Regions from separate parts of the Homo sapiens genome. Here region 2 is linked to region 1. Evidence: fine-mapped expression QTL. A gene starts in region 1. The other region holds a variant in brackets. All regions are shown on one strand. Distances are between the middles of the regions.

Region 1 (8,000 bases):
GCAACCACCATTCCACTTTGTCTCTAAGAATTTGACTACTCTAGGTGTCGCATATGAATGGAATCATACAGTATTTATTCTTTTGTGTTTGGCTTATTTCACTTAGCACAATGTGTTCAAAGTTCATGTGGACTGTAGCATGTGTGGGAATTTCCTTCCTTTTTTGAAAGCTGAATAGTATTCCATTGTATGGATCTACTGCATTTGTTTATCCATTCAATCATTGATGAATATTTGGGTTGTGTCTGTCTTTTGGCTATTGGGAACAATTCTGTTGTGAACATTGGTACACAAATGTTTGTTGGAGTCCCGACTTTCAATTATTTTGGGTATATACCCAGAAGTAGAATTGCTGGATCATATAACTCATTTTTAATTTTTTGAGGAAGCACCATACCATCCACTGTGGTGGCCCCATTTTACATTCCCACCACCCAATGCACACGTGTCCAGTCTCTCCACAACCCCACCAATACTTGTTATTTTCTGTTTTTTTGCGGGTGTTCTTTTTTTTTTTTTGAGACAGGGTCTTGCTCTGTCACCCAGGCAGGAGTGCAGTGGTGTGATCTCAGCTCACCGCAGCCTCAAACTCTTGGGGTCAATATATACATACATACATACATATATATATTTATTTGGTGAAATATCTATTTAAGTCCAAAGAGAATCATTTGAACTATTGTAACGATTTCTGATTTATCTTCTTCTGCTACTTGCCTCTAAATGACATACTTATTTTGCCAGTTTTAGATTTTCTGTTTGATAAATGGGTACTTGCACCCCATCTCTCCTCCCTAAGTGCTGGTACTATAGTTTTATTATTATTTTTGTACATAATGACATACCCTTTTTTTTTATTTTATACTCTCCCCCACCCCTTCCCTCTCAACTACTATCAGATGTAACTTCCAAAGTTAGTGATACTTACATTTACATTCTATTCTGTAACTGTGACTAGGTCTTCTGTAGGTTGATGTTATGAAAGAAAAAAAATCAATAAATGGTGTTTACATTTTGAGCCTGCTTTTGAAGCACAGAAGCAAGACATGGGCAAAGGGGCGGGAATAAGGGCTTTCTCATGGTAGCCAATGGCATGAGCCAAATTACAGGGACCATAAATCATGCAAGTCACATGCAGCATAAAGGAGATGTGATGGCTCAGGCAGAAGGCCCCTTGGGGAGCAACGGGGAATTTAATTGGTTAAAGGGAAGGGAAGGGAAGCTGGAGAGCCTGGATGGCCCACTGCCCTGCTCCCCACTTCCTTATACTAGCCAAAGAATGCGGGTCAACGTGATTCCCCCACCATGACTCACGGACTTCCACCAGCCGTCTTGACTTTCTCCCAGCCCTCCTCCCCATCCACAGAACCAGTGCCTACCAGGGCTTTGCACAAATAAAACAATTCTCCCTCCTAAAAAAGGTTTGCAATTCCTACACAGAGGAAGGTCTTAGAGTGAAGACACAAGAGGAAGGAGAGGATGGAAAAAGAAACAATCACTGAAAACTGGCCGACTACCAGTTCTGTGCCACCTACTCAATTCTTACCCAGCCCTCTGCGTGAAGTTGGTATTATTATCCCCATTTGACAGATAACGAGGCTGGAGAGGCCCCGTGACTTGCCCAAAGCCACAAAGAGACTACTGGCAGAGCTTTGGCCTATGTTTAAGAAGCTGAACCTCTTTGGGATTCAGTTTCTTCATCCATAAAAACAAAGACACATTCCAAGCCATGCCTGTTCCTTGCAGGGTGTTTGTGAGGGTCAGAGAAAATGTCCTTGAAGAGCCTGGCATGTACAAGATACCCTGAAACTGATGGCTATGATGCCACGGCCTGTGCACCTAGGAAGAGTCAGGAAAGCCCAGTGTCTTGAAAAGCCGAGGCTGGAGCAAAGTTCAAGGAGGAACTCACTTCTCTCCCACTCTAGGACTGACCCTCAAACTAGCCAGAAGAGTGGAAGGACCTACAAGATCAGTACCCACCCCACACTTCATAGGCCAAGAGAGGGACAGTGGTTTACCCAGGGTCACCCAGCATGCTAGAGGCTAAGCCTGCCAGCCACGGCTGGGAACCCAGACTTGTGAATGCCCCAGCCCTCCACATTCCCTGGTCCGCTATCAAAGACAGTTAGTCTAATTAGGAAAGCACACCCTTGCAGGCCCAGCCTCCGGTGATCTCTTTGTTCCTCTGTCTCTTCCTGCCCCAACCCCACAGAAACTGAAGTGTGGGGACCCTCCCTAGGAACCGGGGTTCCAGGGAGGATTTGAGGTCACGCTCAAGATCATAAAGAGGCCCAGCATGGACTCCTTCTCATGACCCAAGTGGAGCCAGAGTTCCCAGATAAGGGCAAAGGTCACCTCAGGCCAGGCTCCACTCTCAGCCACCCCTTCTGCCTGGCAGGGTTTACTTCATCTCCTCCAGTCAGGAGAGGGGAGGTCACACTGCCAGGGCCTTTGCCCCATTCTTCTCCAGCTCCTTCTCTAGAGGAAGAGTCATGGCTAGGCCGAGGCAGTGTGGACCTGGAACAGGTATAAACTGTGCTACTCTTTGGTGCCCAGTGCCACTTTTCCTAGCCAGGACCAGAGCTATCACCTTCTCTGTCCCGCAGCTCTGCCCAGGTCTTAGTACCCCACTCACCCCTGGGCCTCAGGAACCCTAAGGAGGGGCATAGGGTTGCTTTCCATTCACACCTGGGGCAGCACAGGGAACTGTGCCACAGGCCCCAAGACAGGCAGATGGAGGATGAAATACACAGGTCCCAGTCCCTGAGGCCACCTTACGTGTCCGGCCCCCAACCCTGTGCAGAAGGTCAAGGCAGAGGCGCCGAGGAGGGATGGGAGGATGCCTCCTGTGAGATGGGGTACAACTGGTGTTCCTTCTGAAGCTGACATCTGGCCTCAGCTGGGACTCTGGCGCCAGCGGGCCCGCAGGGGGCTCACCCGCGACACCCTTTGTTCTGGCTGCCTCCCCAACCCCGCGGGGCCCTCTGCTCCAGCTGGCATGCCTCAAGGACGCTTCGCGCCTGCTCCTTTGGCCCCCGGCTCGCAAGTAGCGGGGCCAGCACGTGACCCGAGGGGGCAGGGGATGGATGGATCTTGACCTTGCCATCTGGCCCCTCACGGATGTGCTGCTGGCTCTCCCTCTAGGAAATCAACAAATTTTTGCGCTTCTAACATCCAGGCCCCTGAGGATGGTCGCGAGGAAGATCTGTTTCGGACTGCAGCTGGGGCCTTCGGATCCAGAGGAAACCAGGGCTATTCTTCGAGGGTGGGAGGGGGAGGGCCGCGGGGTCGGAGGGGAAGGTGGCCCCGCGCGAAGTCGCCGCCGCCGCGCCCCGCCCCGCCCCGCCGGCGGAGACCGAATCCGCCGCACCCCATAGGCAGAGGCCACCCTCCCCGCCTCCCCGCCCGCTGCGCGCCCGCCCCGCCCCGGCTCACTTTAAAAGTTTACTCGGGCCGGGACGCAGGGCAAAGCGAGCCATGGCTGTCTACGTCGGGATGCTGCGCCTGGGGAGGCTGTGCGCCGGGAGCTCGGGGGTGCTGGGGGCCCGGGCCGCCCTCTCTCGGAGTTGGCAGGAAGCCAGGTTGCAGGGTGTCCGCTTCCTCAGGTACTGGCCCCCCGCGGGAAGAGAGGGGGCGGGGCAGTTCCCCGGGAGAGGAACTTGGAGGTCCCGGCGAGCTTCGGAAGCCCCACCTCTGGACGAGTGCACTGGGGGGAAGGTACCCGCCCCTCCCCCGCCCCCCGCCAGCACCTAGGCAATAGGAAAAGCTGGCTTGGCCTGGTGGACTTGGGTGGGGAGGGGGCTTTGGTTGGTGGCTGCAGTGACTTCGAGTTCTGGTCCAAGACTCTCGATTCCTTCTCCTTTATGGGCACAGAGGGCAAGGAGTGTGGGCTTTAAGGAGAATATTCCGATGGGGAGGGGCAAGGGCCAAGGCCTGGGCTGTACCCCCAGGACACTGCCTCTGAGTTGGAACCCCTTCATGGGCAAACTTGGGGATCAGCCCCAGTCTCCCCGACCCAGGCCACTAAACTTAGCAGTCTCCTGTCTCCTCATCAGCTGCTCACTAACATGGCTTTAATTCTTTGCTGCCTACTCCTGGGCCTATTTCCTTCTGTCCTCAGTGCAAGGGGTGGGATGGAAGCTGGCAGGCAGAGGATTTCAGTTCCCAGTAGCTTCACTGCCTCTGCAGCAGCACAGTAAGTAAAGCTGCCTTCCCGGTGTGACCAGTCCTTGGGAGGACCCCGTGAGATGGCAAATGTGAAAGTGCTTGAGACACAGAGAGCAGGCTGCCACTCATGTTATCAGGGCTGTTAGCTTCAGCAGCACCACTGGGGAGCCCTGTGCACTACTGAGCCTGTCCTACCACTCAACTCGGCCAGATACTAAGTCTATGGTCAGGACAGCACTTTCAGCAACATCAGATGGGGTGTGGGCCTGGACATGGAAAAGGGAGAAGTCAGAACAAAGCTGTGTCTCAGAGAACTAGATTTGTTTTTGTTTTTAAAAAGGCTAAGTAGGAAGAGTTGGAGGGACATGCAGACTCCTTTTTGGCTAGAACTCCAAGATCACACTTTCTGAACTTGCTGATTTCTGAATGCTAGAAAGCATGCAATGCCTTAACATCACTCTGCCTAATTTGCTGAGAAAACTAAGTGGATCAAGGCTGGTCAGTAGATGGGATTGAGATGAGGACAGTGGGGTCCTCTTCCCAGTGACCCTGGGAAGTCACTCACTACTTCCCAGGGTCTCCCTAGACAAGTTCGGCCCTCCCCTGACCCCCTAGTCTCTTAAGCCTCTCCTCTGGACTCATGGCTGCCCCCTCAGGCTGGGAGGACTCTGAGGAAAGTTACTTCCCAAAGTGTACATATTTTATCACACTAAATCAGGCCACAGGGGAAGTCTCTCAGCCTACTCTGGCTCAGGAGGCTGCCCAATAGAAAACAAACAAACAAACCAATAAATAAGTAATAAATCAGGCCACATGGCAACATTTCTGACCTTTGACTTTTTTTTATCTATAAACAAAACAGGTCACTTACCTGCTACAGCCCTGGGACCTCTGAGAGCACCAAGCTTCAGAGAAATTCTTATTGCTGTGTCAGGAGGAGACTCATTTATCCAGACAGATGATTTTCTGAGTGTTTGGCCTACTTTCTTTCTGCCCCTTCCACTCCCTTGTGCCTGCACCCTTATTGTCTGACTGTGATGGTTTTACCTGATTTCTCTCCTACTTTCCCCTTCAGAAGCCTCAGGGCTCAGGCCAGGCAAGGTGGTTTATGCCTGTAATCTCAGCACTTTGGAAAGCAGAGGTGGTAGGATCACTTGAGCCCAGGAGTTCAAGGCTGCATTGAGCCGTCATCATGCCACTGCACTCTAGCCTGAGCAGCAGAGCAAAACCTAGACTCAAAAAATAAAAATAAAGGCTGGGTGGGTGGCTCATGCCTGTAATCCCAGCACTTTGGGAAGCCCAGGCAGGCAGATCACTTGAAGTCAGGAGACCGGTTTGGCCAACATGGTGAAACCCCGTTTCTACTAAAAATACAAAAATCAGCCGGGCGTGGTGGCATGTGCCTGTAATACCAGCTACTAGGGTGTCTGAGGCAGGAGAATTGCTCCAACCTGGGAGGCGGTGGTTGTAGTGAGCCAAGACTGCACCTCTGCACTCCAGCCTGGGTGACAGAGGGAGACTCCATGTCAAAAATAAATAAATAAAAATAAAGGCCAAGCATGGTGGCTTATGCCTGTAATCCCAGCACTTTGGGAGGCTGAGGTGGGCGGATCACTTGAGGTCAGGAGTTAGATCAGACTGGCCAACATGGAGAAACCCCATCTCTACTAAAAATATAAAATTAGCCTGGCGTGGTGGCACATGCCTGTAATCCCAGCTACTTGGGAGGCTGAGGCAGGAGAATTACTTGAACCTGGGAAGCGGAGGTTGCACTGAGCTGAGATTGCACCACTGCACTCCAGTCTGGGTGACAGAGAAAGACTTCATCTCAAAAAAATAAAAATAAAAATGAAAAAAGAAGCCTCAGGGCTGAAACCATCAGCAAACATTCCTGAGAACAGATTCTGCGTCATGCTAGCACATGCTGTGCATATAGAGGCCACAGAACTCAGTCCTCACCCTGCCAGGAACTTGCAGCCTCGTAGGAGGAGAAATAAATCAAGGTGAGCACTATTCGGTGTTGCAAGTGCCATGGTGAGGAATGCGCTTGGACTTTCGTCCTCTGTTTTCTCCGATCTGCTCACACACAGCCTGCTTTCCTGTTGCCCAACACCCAGGCCTATTACTTACCAGACCCTGGTTTTGCCTGAGAGAAAAGAGCAAGGGCTTTGAAGTTAGACTATCCTGGATGACAGCCCTGGGTCCTCTCCCTGTTGGTTGTATGACCTCGGGCATGTTATCTAACCTCTGAGCTAGTTAGTTCATTACTTACTACCTTCTTGCTGTGTTGTTGGGCTGATGAATAAAACAAGCTTGCTCTTGTTCTCAGCCTTTCCTTTGAGGCAGGGCTGATCCCTGGAAACCCTTGACTGGTGTCTGGGTGGGAATTCTGACTGATTTGAAAGTAGGAGAGGATCCCCTGATTGGTGGCCTCTTTCTGGAACCCAATTATTTCTCCTAGCTGATTGCCAAGATGGTGACTTCCACCCAGCTACATGTCCAGTCCTTGGGTCTGCTGGACGTCCTCCTCTCCGTTTGACGCAGGGCTGTTCAGAGTCTTTCTCTTTTTCTTTTTTTTTTATTTGAGGTGGAATTTCGCTCTTGTTGCCCCAGGCTGGAGTGCAATGGCATGATCTCAGGTCACTGTAACCTCCGCCTCCTGGGTTCAAGCAGTTCTCCTGCCTCAGCCTCCCAAGTAGCTGGGATTACCGGTGTGCGCCACCCGCCCAGCTAATTTTGTATTTTTAGTGGAGATGGGGTTTCACCATGTTGGTCAGACTAGTCTCAAACTCCTGAACTCAAGTAATCCACCTGCCTCAGCCTCCTAAAGTGCTGGGATTACAGGCGTGAGCCACCACGCCCGGCCCAGAGTCTTTCTCCCCAGAAGGAAAGAAAAAGCTGTCCTTTGCTCTCCAGAACTCCTCACGACCAACTCCTTCCCCCTATCTATGTGCCTCCTTCCCCAAAGAAGGTGGATGGCTTAGTCTGGGGCTTCAGTGAACCTCCAAGGAAGGAATTCAAGGAGAAACCTGGGCTGAGCAGGCTTCCCCCAGACCTGCCCTAAAGCTGGCCTGGGGCTGCCTATGAGGCAGCTGCATCCAGGGTGTTGAGAACACTCAGAGCTGGGAAGGCAGAGAGATCAGTGGCTAAAGCCTCTCAGAATTAGGTGTGGTGCTCAGAGCTGGGGATCCAGTGACTTGGTGCTGATGGTGGGGACAGAGGGGTAAGGGGGCTTTGTGGACCACCCTCCATGGGGATGGCTATGATCATATAAGACTGTGGACCTAAGGGAAAAATCTGAGGCCAAAGTAATATAAGTAGAGAGATTTATTTGGGCCATGTTTGCAGACTGCAACCGGGAGCATAGACTCAAGTTGCCCTGATTATATGATCTGATGAGCAGCAGTTACAAGTGGGTTTTTAAAAGAAAAGAAGGCTGGGTGCAGTGGCTCACACCTGTAATCCCGGCACTTTGGGAGGCCGAGGCAGGCAGATCACAAGGTCAGGAGTTCGAGACCAGCCTGGCCAATATGGTGAAACCCTGTCTCTACTAAAAATACAAAATTAGCTGGGCATGGTGGCGGGCGCCTGTAGTTTCAGCTACTTGGGAGGCTGAGGCAGGAGAATCGCTTAAACCCGGGAGGAGAAGGTTGCAGTGAGCCGAGATTGTGCCACTGCACTCCAACCTGGGCGACAGAGCGAGACTCTGTCTCTAAATAAATAAATAAATGAAAAGAAGAGACAGTTCCTAAGTGATTTACCAAGAATGTACATTAAAATGATATAAGCTATTGATTCATTATACTTTGTTCTTTGTATCACAAATTTTGTTA
Region 2 (9,190 bases), 20 kb before region 1:
TCTGTTGTCATCCTATCATTGACCTGACTGAGATACCAGATATCGCCAAACTCTCGGGCTGCAGTTATGGCGGCACTTCTCTCATTTGTGGTTAGTGTCCGATCTAGCGGTAACATTATATCTCTCCATGTCAGAACAAAGGATTGTCTTAACCCTTGTAAAACATCAATATAGCCATCAGGGTTATCTGAGAATTTACCTAGGTCTATTTTTTTTTTTTAAGACGGAGTCGCACTCTGTTGCCCAGGCTGGAGTGCAGTGGCATGATCTCGGCTCACTGCAACCTCTGCCTCCTGGGTTCACGCCATTCTCCTGACTCAGCCTCCCGAGTAGCTGGGACTACAGGTGCCCGCCACCACGCCTGGCTATTTTTTTTTTTTTTGTATTTTTAGTAGAGATGGGGTTTCATCGTGTTAGCCAGGATGGTCTCAGTCTCCTGACCTCGTGATCTGCCTGCCTCAGCCTCCCAAAGTGCTGGGATTACAGGCGTGAGCCACCGCGCCCAGCCTTACCTAGGTCTATTTTAATTTGCTTCAAGTCTGACAGGGAAAAAGGTACATACACTCTGACTGGGCCGAATTCTCCAGAATACATCTTAGGGGCATTTTTGCCTTGGGGGGAATGTTTCCCATCTGAAAAAAAAAATAGAGATGCCAGCACCCCTAGTGATTTTCCCATAAGCATTAGTCCTAGAGGGTGCTCTATGGTCCTAATGCTTATTCCTTTCCAGGGTGCATAACCACCCATGGACTTCTGCTTATCGGATTAGTTATGCTCACCGATGTAGCAGTCCTGCACCCCTTTTCCCGAGCACAAAGAAAGGGGTCCGAGCTGCTGGATTCTAGTGGTCCTTTACCAGCGTGCCCAACATTGCCTTCATGCTCAGAGGTGAGTTCTAGAGCTGGGCTGAGTTCTTGAGTATTTCCTAACAACCCAGCTGCCCCATCAAGATGCATCCCCATAAACAACAGTTCTTATGCAAATTCGCTTCAGAGAGGGTGTAGGTAACCTTTTGAGTCAGGATTGAGATAGAGTCTTTTTGATTCTGTAAGTACTTTAAGGCTTGGCTGAGTGCAAACAGCTCCCACGTTTGAGCAGACCAATTATTAGGCAATTCTTCTAACTCTGCTTCCACAAGAGTCTCCCTATCAATTACTGAATACCCATTGTGTTTTTTCCTCAATCACCTGGGAGGAGCCATCTATCATTCTTTTCTGAAGGGAGTTCCTTCTAGGTCTGGTCGGACCTTTGTATGGTAATTAAGATTTAAATTCCCTGTTAGGAAATCTGCTGGGTTAAGGGAATTTTCAGTGGTTAGTGTTAAATTACCTTTTTCTAACAGAATAGCCCCATACTTTAAGATTTTTGAGTTAGTAAGCTACCTTTTTGCTTTTTTGACTTAGAATAATTCTGAACTGGTGAGGTGTGCTCACAATGAGGATTCCTCAAAAGGCTACTTTTCTAGGCTGGGCACAGTGGCTCACGCCCGTAATCTCAACACTTTGGAAGGCCGAGGTGGGTGGATCATGAGGTCAGGAGATCAAGACCATCCTGCCTAACACGGTGAAACCCCATCTCTACTAAAAATACAAAAAAAAAAAAAAAATTAGCTGGGCATGGTGGCGGGCGCCTGTAGTCCCAGCTACTCAGGAGGCTGAGGCAGGAGAATGGCGTGAACCCGGGAGGTGGAGCTGGCAGTGAGCCGAGATCACGCCACTGCACTCCAGCCTGGGCGACAGTGAGAATCCGTCTCAAAAAAAAAAAAAGTTACTTTTCACTTTCTTCTCTTAGCAAAGCAGTTGCTGCTACAGACTGAATGCATTTGGGCCATCCATTGGTTCCTGGATCTCAGTGCTTTCAGGCTACGCCCTTGTTTACACTGACAACAAGGCAGTATTGGAGTGTTATAGGGTCACAGAGAAGACCTTCAATTATCAATTATAGGTTTTAAATTTACCCTGGCTTTTAAAGGAATAGGGCACACTGTTTTTTCTTTACTACATCTATCTCTCTTTTTCTCTCTCTCCCTCTCTTTTTTCTATCTGTCTCTCTCTGTCTCTTCTCTCCTTGACTTACTCAATTCGCTTTCATCCTGATCTATTATGTTGTCGTAGACCCAGTTCCAGTTGTTAACGTACTGGGTCATCAGTTCTAAGGCCCTGGCCAAGGAGCCAAGGCTTGGAGATTGCATTGCAGAGGGATAAGCTGGGTAGAAATTGGGGGAGGAGAGCATCTTACACAATGGGAGAGCAATCCTCCTAGCCATTTACAAACTTGGGGCCCTGGCAAGGGTGTTGGGGAATGGGTCCCACCTAACTGCCCATGTCGAGAGCTGTATGCCTAAATTGGGAGGTACATCAGGGACAAGACTCCCTGGGTTCATATTCTAGATGCCTAAGGACACAGCATAGAGCTTCCTTAGATCCCTTTGGAGATACAACCTGCTCTAATACTTGGGAGAGGAAGTGAAAGTCTGAAGCATTAGACCTAGGAGGCAGGGATCAGAGGAAGTAGATTCAGAGGTAAGGAGAATTTTGGGGCTACACTTTCAAGAAAGTCATGGTCGGGACCCAGGAGGTATGGGTCAGAAGGAAAGGTAGGGGCGCACGCATGGGTGACTGTTGAGCAGAGACTTCTGGCTGCACCATGATCTCAACTGGCTAACCCCGGGAGTTCGGGAAGACAGCTTTCTGTCTCTAGTCAGCCCTCAGCTTCCCCAGGAAAATTGAAAGCGGAAGCTGGTTCCAGGCAGACCAACACTTCTAACCCAGAAGGGTTGGGGTTGTTAGAAAGCCCTTTCCAAGACAGCCTTATACCTGAGTCTTAAGTGAGGCGGCCACGCTAATCGTTTTTAACTGGCCGACAGATGCCCAGTATTTTCCTCCAATTCTAAGGAAGGATAGGACAGAATAGCAAGTGAAAGTGGTCCAATATTACTGCTTTGGAGGTCCCTTCATGGTTGCCAATATCTTACCAGGGGGTCCTTGTTCTTAGAGCTCCCAAGATGGTGGCAGGCTGCTTCCGAGATGGTGGCAGGCTGCTTCCAAGATGGCGGCAAGCCTCTTGTTCTCTGACCTGGGATTCTTGGCCTCATGCATTCCAAGGAATGGAATCTTGGGCCATGCAGTGAGTGTTATAGCTCTCTTCAGCTCGATTAGGATGAACCTGGGCACTTAGCCGTGGAGGAACAATAGCAAGCCTTTAGCCCAATCGGGAGCGGCAGTGGGCACCTTGCTGGATCAGGAGCACAGCGGACACTCTGCCGGATCTGGAGGGGTGGAAGTCAGCAGCAGGTCTGTGACAGTGGCAAACAGCAGTGGTGGACAGCAAGTGAAAGCTCAGCTCAAGCTGTAACAAACATGGACCAGAACATTGTGCAGTTGCAAGATTTAATAGAGTGAAAACAGAGCTCCCATAAAATGGAAGGGGACCCAAAGGGGGTTACTGTTGCCAGCTTGAATGCCTGGGTTTATATCCCGATCATTGTCCCTCCTCCTGTGCTCTCAGGTGATAGATTATTGGCTATTACTTTACCTCCTGTTTTTGCCTACTTAGCATTTTACTGAGCTCTCTTTACTACCTGATTGGTTGGGTGTGAGCTAAGTTGCAAGCCCCATGTTTAAAGGTGGATGCGGTCACCTTCCCAGTTAGGCTTAGGGATTCTTAGTCGGCCTAGGAAATCCAGCTAGTCCTGCCTCTCTCTCACAATGGCCTACTCCTTATTTATCAAATCCCCGCTGTGCACACCCCAACCCGTCGCCAGCAAGGCACTGTGCTGGGCTTCTGGGAAACAGACAAGGGCAATTGGATAATACATACATTAGCATTTGGCAATCTCTAAATCCTTGAGCATCCATTATCTTATTTTGATAATGTACATGAGGAGACAGTGAG[G/A]CACATTTCATCGTACTCCCTCTCTTAAGGAGGAAGAAACCAAAGCTCAGAGAGGAAAAGTCACTTGTTCTCAGCCACACCTTTGGTTGAGGGGCAGACTTTTTTATTCCAAATCCTGTTTCTTTTCACTACACCCTATTTTTCCTACCATGAAGGAGCCTACAGTCCATGCAAATAATTATTATAAAAGGTAAAAGGATAAGTGCCTGAACACATAGAGATGAGATCTGTGCATGAATATGTAGTGCTGTGTGTGTGTGATAACATCAGGTTGACAGGTGCAAAAACATTATTTGTGCCTCAGACTGTGCTTTACATATATTATGTCTTTTAACTCGGCCTTCACAACAGACTTATAAGGCAGACATTATTTCAGTTTTACAGGTGAAGTGATTGAGGTTCAAAAAGGTCAACTATTTAATGACAATCACAGCAGGAAAGTGAATGCATTCCAAGAAAGGTGGGTGCAAACCCAGCATGGTGGGGAGGAGCCTGTACGGAAGAGAGAAATCAGAAAAGGCACCATGGAGAAGGTGGCATTTAGGTTGGGCTTTGAAGGATGGATGAGGTCCAGACAGGTAGAGATGCAGCCCAGGGAAGCAGAGAGGCAGAGCAAGGAACTGACCACAGGTACTGACTTTGGGGAAGATTTCTTTAAATCTCTTAGGCTAGAGCCCTGCAGCTTTGTGAGAAAGTGAAGCCTGTCGTCTGTTGGCAGCCTTTTTCTTGGAAACAACAGGCTGGCCCTATGCTGAACCCCCCAAAACCAAATGCCACTTTGTGCTTGGATGTCTGAGGTTGTTAGGGGAGCTGCCAAACAGAACACAAGTACCAGCAGCAATTGAGAAGCCCAAGATCAAGACTAGGACAGGAGTCATCAGCTGCCTGAAAACCCTTGGGCGTCAGGCCAGTGCAGCCACTGCTAACTCTGGGGCAATCTTGGCAACTTGTTACACTCCCAGCTTCTGTTCCTCCTTCTGTAAAACGGGTATAATAGCCAGGTGCAGCAGCCATTGCCTGTAATCCCAGCTACTTGGGAGGCGGAGGCAGGAGGATCGCCTGAGCCTAGGAGTTTGAGGCCAATCTAGGCAACATAGTGAGAGCACCCCCCTATTCTAAATAAATAAATTTTTAAACATTGAAAAAGTGAGCATAATAATATGAAGTAGCACATCAAGGATCCACAGAGAGACAGGAGAGAAAGAGCCAATAGCACCACGCAGCAGGAATCAACCTTTTTAAGGGCAGCTGAGTCCCTTTGGCAGGTGGGTTGAAAAAAAAAAAAGGCAGGCCAGGCATGGTGGCTCGTGTCTGTAATCCCAGCACTTTGAGAGGACAAGGCGAGTGATCACCTGAGGCCAGGAGTTCAAGATCAGCCTGGCCAACGTGGTGAAACTCCATCTCTACTTTAAAAAATACAAAAATTAGCTAGGTGTGGTGGCATGTGCCTGTAGTCTCAGCTACTCTACTCGGGAGGCTGAGGCAGAAGAATTGCTTGAACCCAGGAGGTGGATGCTGCAGCGAGCCAAGATCACACCACCACACTCCATCCAGCCTGGGCAACAGAGCTAGACTCCATCTCAAGTTAAAAAAAAAAAAAAAAGCAGTCTCAGGCCTTGAGGATGTGAGCCCCCAAAGTATATTTTAATATTGATCTCCATTTATATAGTTTACTTACTTACATAAATTTGCTTTTTTCGAGACAGAGTCTCTGTCTCCCAGGCTGGAATGCAGTGGCATGATCTCAGCTCACTGCAGCCTCCACCTCCTGGGTTCAAGCGATTCTCCTGCTTCAGCCTCCAAGTAGCTGGGATTACAGGTGCGCGCCACCATGCCCAGCTAATTTTTGTATTTTTAGTAGATACGGGGTTTTGCCATGTTGACCAGGCTTCTCTTGAACTCCTGGCCTCAGGTGATTCGCCCACCTCAGCCTTCCAAAGTGCTGGGATTACAGACATAAGCCACCACGCTTGGCTATAAATTCGCCTTAAATACTTCCACATGTAGAGACATACATGTGGAATGTAAGTCACCATGTTCCTGTAAGTCAGCCTTTCCCAAGGTAACCCTCAAATTGAAGGCAACTGCAATTAGAAATCCCAAGATTTTTGTTTCATTTTTGTTTTTAGAACTAAGTAAATATTCTCTTTTTTTGTTTGTTTGAGACAGGGTCTTGCTCTGTTGCCTAGCTGGAATGCAGTGGTACGATCACAGCTCACTGGAGTCTCCACCTCCCAGTGCTCAAGTGATCCTCTCCACCTTAGCCTCCCTAGTAGCTGGGACCACAGGCATGGACCACTGTACTCGGCTATTTTTTAATTTTTTTTGGAGACGGGGTCTCCCTATGTTGCCCAGGCTGGTCTTGAACTCCTGGGCTCAAGAGATCCTTTCACGACCACCTAGCAAAAGTGCTGGGATTATAGGCAGGCCACTGCGCCTGGCCTAATATTATCTTAAAATGCATATAGAGGGGCTGGATGCAGTGGCTCATGCCTGTAATCCCAGCACTTTGGGAGGCTGAGGTGGGAAGATCACGAGATCAAGAGATGGAGATCATCCTGGCCAACATGGTGAAACCCTGTCTCTACTAAAAATACAAAAATTAGCTGGGCATGGTGGCACGCGCCTGTAGTCCCAGCTACTCGGGAGGCTGAGGCAGGAGAATCATTTGAACCCAGGAGGCAGAGGTTGCAGTGAGCCGAGATTGCGCCACTGCACTCCAGCCTGGGCAACAGAGTGAGACTCCATCTCAAAAAAAAAAAAAAAAAAAAAGCATACAGAGGGGGCCAGGTGCGGTGGCTCATGCCCGTAATCCCAGCACTTTGGAAGTCCGAGGCGGGTGGCACCAGGTCAGGAGTCCAAGACCAGCCTGGCCAAGATGGTGAAACCCCATCTCTATTAAAAACACAAAAATTACCTGGGCGTGGTGGCAGGCACCTGTAATCCCAGCTACTCGGGAGGCTGAGGCAGAGAATTGCTTGAGCCAGTGAGGCGGAGGTTGCAGTGAGCCAAGATCGTGCCACTGCACTCCAGCCTGGGCAACAGAGACTCTGTCTCACAAAAAAAAAAAAAAAAAAAAAAAGCATATCGAGGGATATGACAATTGTACTTTTTAAATAAATATTTTTAACAAAAAAAAAATGCACATAGAGGGAAAAGTCAAGTTCATATAGCAAGATAAATGTGCAAGAATTGCTATGAAGCTGGGCATAGTGACTCATGCCTGTAATTCCAGCACTATGGAAGTCCAAGGCTGGAGGATTGCTTGAGCCCAGGAGTTCAAGACCAGACTGGGCAACATAGGAATGGATACTCTGTCTCTACAAAAAATAATAAAATTTGTCAGGCATAGTGGCCCACACTTATGGTCCCAGCTACTCAGGAAGCTGAGGGAGAAGGATCACTTGAGCCCAGGAGGGTGAGGCTGCTGTGAGTCGTGATTGCACCACTGTACTCCAGCATGAGACCCTCCCCCTATCAAAATAAAAATAAAAAATAAAAATTAAAAAAAGGCCAGGCGCAGTGGCTCATGCCTGTAATCCCAGCACTTTGGGAGGCTAAGGTAGGTGGATCACTTGAGGTCTGAGGTCAGGAGTTGGAGACCAGTCTGGCCAACATGGCAAAACCCCGTCTCTACTTAAAAAAAAAAAAAAAAATAGCCAAGTGTGGTGGCACCCACCTGTAGTCCCAGTTATTCGGGAGGGTGAGGCAGGAGAATCGCTTGAACCCAGGAGGTGGAGATTGCAGTGAGCCAAGATCGTGCCACTGCCCTCCAGCCTGAGTGACAGAGCAAGATTCTGTCTCAAGAAAAAAAAGTCAAATCCATCAACAAATGAGTGGTTGAAAAACTGAGAATGTATTTATACAATGGAACATTACTGTGGAAAATTATGCAGCCATTAAAGAGAATGACTAGGAACTGTATGTATTGATCTGGAAAAAAATGTTTATTGCATATGGTCAAGTAAAAACATGCAAGTCATTGAGTATGGTACATGGCCTGATCTCATTTTTTAGAAACAGAATTTCATTTTGACATTATTTCAGATTTACAGAAAAGTTGTAAGAATAGAAAGAATTCCTGGAGCTGGGTGCGGTAGCTTACACCTGTAATCCCAGCACTTTGGGAAGCCAAAGCAGGAGAATCACTTGAGGCTAGGAGTTTGAGATCAACCTGGGCAACATGGCAAGACCCCATCTCTATTATAAAAATAAAATAAAATAAAAATAATTTCTGTGTACTTTTTTTTTCTTTTTTTGGAGACGGTGTCTTGCTCTGTCGCCAAGGCTGGAGTGCAATGGCGCAATCTCGGCTCACCGTAACCTCCGCCTTCCAGGTTCAAGCAATTCTCCTGCCTCAGCCTCCTGAGTAGCTGGAATTACAGGCGGGCGCTCCATGCCCGGCTAATTTTGTATTTTTAGTAGAGACGAGGTTTCTCCATGTTGGTCAGGCTGGTCTCAAACTCTCGACCTCAGGTGATCCACCGGTCTCGGCTTCCCAAGGTACCAGGATTACAGATGTGAGCCACTGCGGCTGGCCCTCCTGTGTACTCTTTACCCAGATCTCCCATTTGCCATTTCACTACAGTTGCTTTATCCTTCTGTCTCTCTGTCTACACACACACACAGACACACACACATACACACACACACACACAATTTCTAAACTGTTTGAGTATGTTGCAGATATGATGCCCTTTTATCACTAAATATATCAATTTTTTTTCTAAGTACAAGGAAATATATAACCACAGGGCAATTGTAAAAATCAACAAATTCACACTGATCAATACTACTCTCTAATCTATAGACTTTATTCTGATTCTATTAATTGTCCAGCATGATTTTTTTTTTGTAATAATAGCCAGATTTAATGGCTTATGCCTGTAGTCCCAGCTACTCGAGAGGCTGAGGCAGAGAATGGCTTGAGTCCAGGAGTTTAAGTTCAGCCTGGGCAGCATAGCAACTCTTCTTCTCTTAAAAGAGAAAATAAAAATTATATATATAATATTAACAGAGATATGATATATTAATATATAACATATAATAATATATATAATATTCCTAGGCTCAATATATATGAGCCTAGGAAAATGTATAGATGAATATCCATACTTTTTAACCTAGTTAACCTTAAAAATTTGCTAAAATCAGCCTTATAACTTTTGTAATAAATTATAATATAGAAAAGTTTATTACAAATAAATAAGCAATGAATGAATGAATAAATAAAATCATCATATGTTGAGATGGAACTGAGATCAAATCTGGTTCTACCAACTTTGGACACATTACC

Evidence for each region.
Region 2: its variant is fine-mapped to the expression of ACSF2 in whole blood (INTERVAL, PIP 0.92).

Annotation. Positions count from the first base shown.
Region 1 is chr17:50,422,785-50,430,784 of GRCh38, forward strand. ACSF2 (acyl-CoA synthetase family member 2) reads left to right here and starts at 3,434. Exons shown (of 16, transcript NM_025149.6): 1 at 3,434-3,605. The coding sequence starts at 3,478. RefSeq lists an enhancer at 2,966-3,510 and a silencer at 3,247-3,566.
Region 2 is chr17:50,402,001-50,411,190 of GRCh38, forward strand. No RefSeq gene overlaps it. Among named protein-coding and RNA genes, the nearest start is that of LRRC59, 9.1 kb to the left of the region's middle. The variant G/A (reference allele first, on the strand shown) is at 3,895.